Regions from separate parts of the Homo sapiens genome. Here regions 1 and 3 are each linked to region 2. The links come from fine-mapping of genetic effects on gene expression. A gene starts in region 2. Each other region holds a variant in brackets. All regions are shown on one strand. Distances are from middle to middle.

Region 1 (2,759 bases), 140 kb after region 2:
TTTCCCCATCTGTAAAACTGAGATAATAATAGCAACCTACCTCACAGGGTGGTTTTGAGGTCAAGTAAATGAATACATGCAAAATGCTTACACAGGGCCTGGCACAGAAAAGCACTACATAGAAGTGGGGTTATCTTTTTTTTTTTTTTTTTTAATGAGATGGCGTTTCACTGTGTTGCCCAGGCTAGAGTGAAGTGGTGCAAACACAGCTCACTGCAGCCTCCACCTTCTTAGCTCAAGCTATCTTCCCACATAGCTGGGACCACAGGCATATGCCACCACATCTGGCTAATTTTTTTATTTTTTTGTAGAGACAGTGTCTTGCTATGTTGCTTAGGCTGGTCTTGAACTCCTGGGCTTAAATGGTTCACCTGCCTTGGCCTCCCAAAGCTCTGGGAATACAGGTGTGAGCCACTGAACCCGACTGGCTATCATTTTAAGGATCAAAATTATCAGTATTTCTCCATGACCCCCAGTCACTTACACAAACACACACACACACACACACACACACACACACACACACACAAAACCACTCGTATTCTCCTTCCTCTGCAGGTGTCAAATCAGCCTACAGATCTCCAAGCCAGTGCAGGCAGAGGCCGTATGACACAAGCAACCTCAGTCACCACTCATCCTCCATCTACTGGCCAGTCCCCCTCCAATAAATAAATTTCTGATTCTGACCCCCAGCCCAGGCCAAGGCTCACATTGGCTCATGAGAACTGCATGTGCATATCTCTTTACAAAGCTGTATCCAGTGATGTCATATTCATAGCTTGAATTCAGCCACTGTGGGAGTATTTATACCATGGCAATTGGCAACACTACAAATCAGAGATTTTTTTCCCCTCCCCGTGAGCAAGCTGTTAAATATTTACCAGCACAACATTACTTGTACCAACCTTTCATTTCTCCGCATTCCACCCTGGGGCCCTTCTCTACATGACACTTGCTCTTCTTCCAGACGCTAAATCCAACTGTAGCTGACTCCCTGCAGCAGCATTGCCCCATCTGATTAATATCCTGTGACTACTTCCTCTTGGAACCTCAAGGCCCACTGTTGACTGTGCCCCTGCCCTTTGGCACCAAACTTTGTCCACCAGGGAGCCCCCTTCACCGCTAGTCAGACCTACTCCCCAGCCCCCATCCTAAGCAAGTATGGGAGTCTCATGCCAGGCCCCTGCCCCATCCTTTCCTCTGCCTGCACAGTGTTGCCCTAAATTGCCAGTAGGCTGGTATCCAAGTCCTGAGCAAGCCATGATGAGGCATCTGCTGTACCTCTGAAAAGCAGAGTATAAGATTTTGCACGTTGGATGGTTTGCTCCATGAAGGAGCAAGAGACCTGGAGGGGAAGCATGACCCAGGGTGGTGGTTATCTTTTCTTGTGGGCTGAGTGGGCCAGTTTATTTATTCATTAGAATAAAAGCTGCATGAAGGCAGGATTTGACATCTATTTGTTTTTTTTGCTGTGTTCCCAGTGCTTAGATCAGCACTGGGCCCTTACTAAGTATTCAATAAATATAAGTTGAATGAATAAATGAATTAATCTGCTTATTCAACAAATGTTTCCCCTAAGCTTTTATTTGTACCAGGACATTTTAGATCCTGGTGATACAGAAAAGAGCAACATATGGTCCCTGCCTTCAAGAAGCTTCTGGTCCCATGGGCCACAGATGTGGCC[G/A]TTAGCGAAACCCGGGAGTCCCTCCAGGACGGCTTGTGAGCACTGGTGCAGATGGGAGCAGGGGCAGGGGCTCCCAGCTTCCAGACCAAGATGGGGTGCTGTGTGGGCCAGAGAAATCACAGTGTTTGTCTGCACGTGCTCAGTGGATTGTGCTAGCTGCTGGCTGTTGGCTGAGGTGGCCGCCCAAGGTCTCTTGGCCAGAACACAGCTCCAACTCCTTCACTCTGGCCCCGCCCACCCAAAGGAGCAGAGCTGTTGGCCAAGAGAGAGGAGTCAGGCAGGGAATCCCAGCCCCTCCCTGCCCCTGACTGGGCCCGGAAGGGCCTGGCATGCTTCTAATATCAAGCAGCAAATTCAATCAGGCAGATGAGAATTCCTATTATTTTAATATATTTAGAAGAGAGTTTAAGGTGGATTTTGTTCCATGCTGTATATTTTTACAACATGAGGTCAGGCCACTTTGATAAATGCTGTAATGCAGGCAGGAGGGGCCTTGGGAAAGGGTGAGTGAGAGAAAGAGTTGAAAGAGGGAGAGGGAAAGAAAGAGAGACAGAGACAGACAAAGGCAGAGACACAGAGACAAAGTCATAGAGACAGAGAGGCAGAGGCAGAGAGAGAGAGGCAGACATAAAGACTGTATGTGCATCTCTGGATCCATTTTTGCACATATGTCTATGACTCCATGTGTGTTTCTGTGTCTGTTTGTTGTTCAAGTCGACAAATCCATTTGGGGATAAATAGGATGATTTTTCCACCTGCAGGAAGCAAGGCAGCCAAAGGCTGATTGGGGCTGCTCCGCTCTGCTGCTCTCAGAAGGCCTTGGGCTGGGACTCGCATTGCTCCCTAGGCCAGGCTCCAGGCTCTGCTTAGAAACTGAGATGCAGGCAGGCGGCCAGAAAGGCAGAGGCAGTCAATCCTTAGCAGGAGAGAGGCACTGGGCCCCCGGGTGCCCCCTGCCCTGCTGGCTCTGCCACGTGACTCCATTCTCACCTTCCCCGGAGGATCCCCATTCCGCTCTTAGAAGCCGGCATACATGGCTCCCAGCATCCAAAACAAATACCACTGGAGCACAGGG
Region 2 (2,759 bases):
GCCTCAACCTCCTGGGCTCACACAATCCTCCTGCTTCAGCCTCCTAAGTAGTTGGGACTACAGGCACACACCACCAGCTTGTCATATCTTTCTCAGTGAATAAAGCAACCTGTTTTGTTCTCTTTAGTTCTTTTTACTTTGAGTTCTCGATGTTTAGGATATTGATATTGTTACGAGTTTGTTTCCTCCTTCCTTTCCTTCCTTTTTTTTTTTTTTGCTTCTTTCCTTCCCTCATTCCCTCTCTCCCTTTTTTCTGCTAGTATTTTACTCTCATATATTTTTTATTCCTATTTCTGCTTTAGGTGAAACTCACATAAATAGAATATAACTTAGCTTTTAAAAACAAAATGCTCAAAATAAGAGTTTGGTTTTTATTAGGAGATGTTAACCCATAATGCATGCTGATATATTTGGATTCCTGCATTTTTGTTTTCTTTTTGCATCCTTTTTTTTGTACCCCCCCAGCAACATTTCTTGACCTTTGTTAAGAATGAGTTTTTCTCTTTGTTCCACATATTATTACTTTAATGGTTTGAAAGTTATACATTTTATTTCTATTATGTTGTTACCCCTAAGATTTTTGTTCTATTATGCATTTTGTTTCCAGTAAGAACAAAACTTTGCTACTGTTGTGAACATGGGAAATGTTTACATTGGCTGTAAATACTAGAGTTCCATTATAAAGCGCAATTTAAAGACTTCAGAATTCAGTAAAATGGTATAAATCCAAAAGGCGTAACTACAATATTTTTAACTGCAATGCAATAACAGAATATGAACCTGTGTTGTGTCCTATGATCTCTTGGACAGAGAAGCTTGGTTTTGTGATTAGCAGCAACAAATTCAACATAAACAGCTTCAATTTGCTTTAACCATCAGGTTAAAAAAAATTTAAGCTTACTGCAACCCTAAATATGGTTTCACAGTTTTAATACTTTCGGTACAACCATAACACGTAACATAGGATGTGATGTAGTAACGTAATTACTCTCACATTGGACTTAATCAGAAAGAATTTGCAGATTTTATTTTATTTATTAAAAAACCAGAAGGCAATATAGCTAAATGTTTAACATTAGTTAAAGCTGGGTGTTTGTGACATTTTTCGCTGTCCTTTTCTGTATCCTTGACGATTTCATCATTTAAGATGAAATAATGCTTTCGGGCCCACCCTGATTTGTGGAGAGCAGCTGCCGCCCCCGCCACATCAAGGAGGCGGGCTCCAGCTGACTTCACAATCACTTCCGCCGCCGCAGTCGCCGCCCGCCCCGCTGCTGTCTGGCGGGGGAGGAGCTCGGGACCGGGAGCAGCGGCTCTGGCGGTCGTGGCGGTCGGAGATCCGAGAGCTCTGCTTCTCTGAAAAGCGTGTGGCTTTCTGGACTTGGTGAGTGAAAGGCTGATTGTTTCCTCGATTCATCCGGGCGCTGGCGGTGGCGCGAGTGGCCGGGCGCGGGGCGAGTGGCCGGGCACGGGGGCGAGGATTTTGGGGGGTTCCTGGGAACTGCTTTTCAGGTTCGCCCCTCGGGAAGGGGTGGGGCGGACGCGGGACCTGACTGCAGAGTGAGGCCCATGTCCTCCATCGGCCTGTTCTGGGGCCACATCTTCCGCTGCCGGAACCCCTTTGGTGTGGCGCGGTCCCCACTCGAGTGGCTTTCATCGCTATTGGGAGGGCAGTGGTGGTCGCGGCCCTCTCCCACTTCTCCCTGCCTCTCCTCCCCTCTCCTTCCTTCTTCCCTCCTCGGCCCCTTTGCGGAGCACTCCGTGGCCTTTCTTCCCATATTTTGCTGTTGTTTTGCCAAATGGTAAATGGTTAAGATTTTTAGGTAAAAATACTGTTCCCAGGGAAAAAATTGGAAGGAAAAAATAATTATTCTCAGGGAAAACTAGACCCACGCACGCCCTTTTCTTTCATTTTCCCTCTCCCCTGCCACATCGGTTGGGGTCTCCCGTTTGAGCTGATGGCCTTTTCCCACCTCTTTTTATGACATTGCGTCCCCCCTACCCCCCACCCCCCGTGTGTCGCGAGCACGCGCCCCCGCACAGAAGCCTTCCATTGCAGCCCCCTCCTTGCCCCTCCATCCTCAAGGTTCCAGTGCTTCCCCTCCCCCGCGCATGCGCAGGCACACGCAGCACACACCCTCTCACACACCCTCACACCCTCACACCCTCCCATGCCTTCCCCCTCCTCTATCCGCCTACCACATACACACCTCTAGCACCGGCCCCCTCCCTGCTCGGCCTCTGCGTGCTCTCGCGAACACATGCCTATTCACACACCCCCTCCGGCTGCCCTCCTTCTTCCTTCCTGTCATATACACACATAAGGACATCCTTCTATCGCTGGCCAGTGACATACATATGTAGCCACATGTGCTCATTCATACCCCCTTCTCAAATGCTCTCCTCTATTGCTCTGTCTGCCACGTGTGTCAGACACAGCTCTCTTTTGCTGGTCCCTGAGGTGCACACACTCGCACTCACATAAATCCTTCTACGGGGACACAACCTGCCTCCCTGCTTGCCATATCCACACAGGCAGGCATCATTCTTTGATTGCCTGCCTCTGTTCCATCCACCTCAAGCACATCCCTCTCCAGTGCTGCGCACCCCCCACCCCCGCTTCCATTTGTGCCTGCTGCATTTGCTCACACTGACATTTCTCCATTGTTGCCTCCCATTTTGACTAACATACACACACACAAACTCTCAGACACTCCTCTCCATTGCCAACCATACACTCCTCTGCCTGTGACATACGC
Region 3 (2,759 bases), 52 kb before region 2:
AAACCTCAATGCCACTGGGCTGGAGACAAAGGAGAATGAAGTCCAGGAAACAGTTCTCCGTCTCCAACTTTGTCCCTGCCTCTGGTTTGATGTCTCTGGCCCTTTTTCTATTTATCTATCTCCCTTTCTCTGTCATTGCTCTTGCGCTGCCCCCCACCCCACACTTTTATTTTCTCCTTGTCTCTTTCCTCCTCTCTTTCCCTCCACCCCAAAGCCATGTCTTGAATTTGCTCTTGGCCTTTTTGTTTGTCTTTAACTTCAAGAACTTGCATAGGTATTCTGTTGAGGGGAGCTGACCAGAGGACAACATCCCATGGGGCTGTAGCAATTGCAACAAAAAACACAGAGAAGGACATGGGGATAGAATAGTCCCACCCTCCTTTCAAAGGCCCTATTACAGCATCCGTCATGGTTGTCCATCCAGCCTCTACTTCCAAACCTCTGGGGACGGGGGTATCGATAGGCCCTGACTCAGCCATCCCCTTGCAGAACAGCTCAAACTGACAGGAGGTCTTTTCTGGAAGTGGACTAAAATCACTATTTCTGTGGCTTCCACCCACAGGTCTTAATTGTGGTCCTTGGGATCATCCAGGTCACTCCAGCTCCCTCTGCCCTTTGGCAGTCCTTCAGAGGTCTCCCCGAAGAATTAAGGTCCTTTTCTGCCTGCATTCTCTCAATGTGGGCTCTCAGGAGAGAATGAGAGGCCCTCCAACCCATTGTAGTTGTGCTGCATCCTGGGAGAGGGCATCCCTATCCTAAACCAAATTGGGGAGGGAGTTGGCAGGAGCATCAGAAATATTCCAGGGAAGGGCTACTGGTCAGAAATGATGTCCCACCAGGTCATGTCCCACCTCACCTCAGTCTGAGATAAGGTGGGGGAATGGAAACTGGCCCAGCCTGAGGACATAGGGACAGTAGGCAGGCAGCTGGAAAGAAGGCCAGGGCAGGAGGCAGGCTGGCCCGTCCCTGCCTGAGACCCAAAGCCCTTGACAGGAGACCTCAGGTGCCCAGGGAACTGGGCAGCCAAGAGCCAGAGAGCAGAGAGGCCTGCTCTGGGGGCACATTCAGGACTGGATGCCCTGTAAGAAGAGAGGCACAGAGCATTGAGTCAGCTCCTTCAGCCCAGCGCCCGGGAGTAGCAAGAGTGCTTTTCAGCCACATACTTCCTAGCGAGCAGGCACGAAGTCTTGAGATCCTGCCAGCCTGGGCTCTTCAGCTTGCACCAAACTAGGAAGGGGCCCAGCCTAGCCTGGCCAGA[C/G]CAGTTCTGTATCTACCCCTCAACTTCCATCAGAGCGGCACACTTGCAACTCCCAGCAGATTCCACCCAGGCACTGGCCTCAGGTGCTTCCAAACTCCTTGGGGTGGCAGGGGTCTCTCTATGCTTCAAGCCCTCAAGGGGAGATTTCTGGTCTCCCTGGAATGATTCCCAGAAGCCAACCAGGATCCTTCATGCTGCAGCTGTTGCTCTGGCCCTACCCCCAGTGGATTTTGCTGTTTGTTGCACATTTAGTGAGTGCCTTACTTCTCTGTGCCAGGCCCTGTGCTAAGCTTTTTGCATACATATCAGAGATGAAAGAGTTAACACCATGTGCCCACCAGAAGTCCTGCCCCCTCTCTGGCATCCCTCTATACTTCTCAGGCAGCAGAAATCATATTCCCTAAGGCAGCACTTGGCAGAAAGGAGCCTGCTCTGCCCAGCTGACCACATGTGCCTTTGCTTTCCCTCCCCTCTTGGTTCCTCAAGCAAGTGTCAGGAAACAGGATCCAAGGAGAAAACAGGCACCTGTTCCTGAAGTTCCCGACAGGACCCCTCTTCCCTGCCCCAGCCTCTGGGCCTCCTGGTGCCCCTAGGGCCTGATAGGAAAGAAAGGCCTCAAAGGCATTGGGAACCTCCTCCTAGTTTCTATCTGGCCTGCCACATTTGGTCAACCCTGTCAAAGAGAGGCAATGCAGTAGAATACAGCAGTTAATAGCACAGACACCAGAACCAGACAGCCCAGGCTGGGCCACATAATAGATTCGCAAGTCTCAGTTTTTCCCATCTATAAAATGGGCATCATAATTGTATCTACTTCATTGGGTTGTTTTGAGGGTTGAGTTAATATATGTAAAATATTCAGAATAGCATCTGAGGTGTAGTAAATAAACAAATAATTGTTAAATAAATTCAACTCCTGTCCCCTAGGATCTCCCCAACTTCTACCCTCCGAGTTGCCCCAGTTTTTGCTCTATCTCATTAATCTCCCTGGACAAGTATAGGAACTCTGCCCTTGCTTCCTACCCTGGCCCCCTCTATCACTGTCCCTTAGTCCCCTGAGGCTAGACCCTAGCCCAGGTGCTCAGCTACCCTCTGGAGATGCTGAAAGGCCTGCATGGGAATGGGTCTTCCTCTACCTGCAGCTCAGTGGGGGCTTCCCCTGGGAGGCCTCTTGCCTCTGTCTCCCCAGAGTGGGGCAGCTGCTCTGCCTCTTTAAGGCCCTAACTAGGTCATCGCCTAGCTGAACACCCCCTCACATTCCCCTCACACTAAACAATCTGATCTGATCGCTGGTGATGAGGTCAATTTCACATGGCTTTGTTCCTGCAGTGAGCTTGTCACGACCAATCATTTCCGAGCGAGGAGCCCATAATCCCGCGCTGGCTCTCTCACCCCCAGAGGCCATGGCCCCTTTCTTGCTCACCAGTATGAGGTCCCCAAGGGCCGGCTCAGCACGAGTTTCCTCATGGCCTCTGTGTGCCCTCCCACTCTTCCTGGCTTG

Direction of the effects. Alleles are on the strand shown, and positions count from the first base shown. SD is a standard deviation of normalised expression in the study named.
For the expression in adrenal gland of the gene that starts at base 1,303 in region 2, allele G in region 1 goes with a lower level than allele A (moderate effect, 0.55 SD a copy in GTEx).
In carriers of allele G in region 3, the expression in thyroid of the gene that starts at base 1,303 in region 2 tends to be lower than with C alone (small effect, 0.21 SD a copy in GTEx).

What was found.
Region 1: its variant is fine-mapped to the expression of PJA1 in adrenal gland (GTEx, PIP 0.97).
Region 3: its variant is fine-mapped to the expression of PJA1 in thyroid (GTEx, PIP above 0.99).

Annotation. Positions count from the first base shown.
Region 1 is chrX:69,024,289-69,027,047 of GRCh38, reverse strand. No RefSeq gene overlaps it. Among named protein-coding and RNA genes, the nearest start is that of PJA1, 140 kb to the left of the region's middle. The variant G/A (reference allele first, on the strand shown) is at 1,685.
Region 2 is chrX:69,163,997-69,166,755 of GRCh38, reverse strand. PJA1 (praja ring finger ubiquitin ligase 1) reads left to right here and starts at 1,303. Exons shown (of 2, transcript NM_001032396.4): 1 at 1,303-1,384.
Region 3 is chrX:69,215,540-69,218,298 of GRCh38, reverse strand. No RefSeq gene overlaps it. Among named protein-coding and RNA genes, the nearest start is that of LINC00269, 37 kb to the right of the region's middle. RefSeq lists an enhancer at 586-1,085. The variant C/G (reference allele first, on the strand shown) is at 1,259.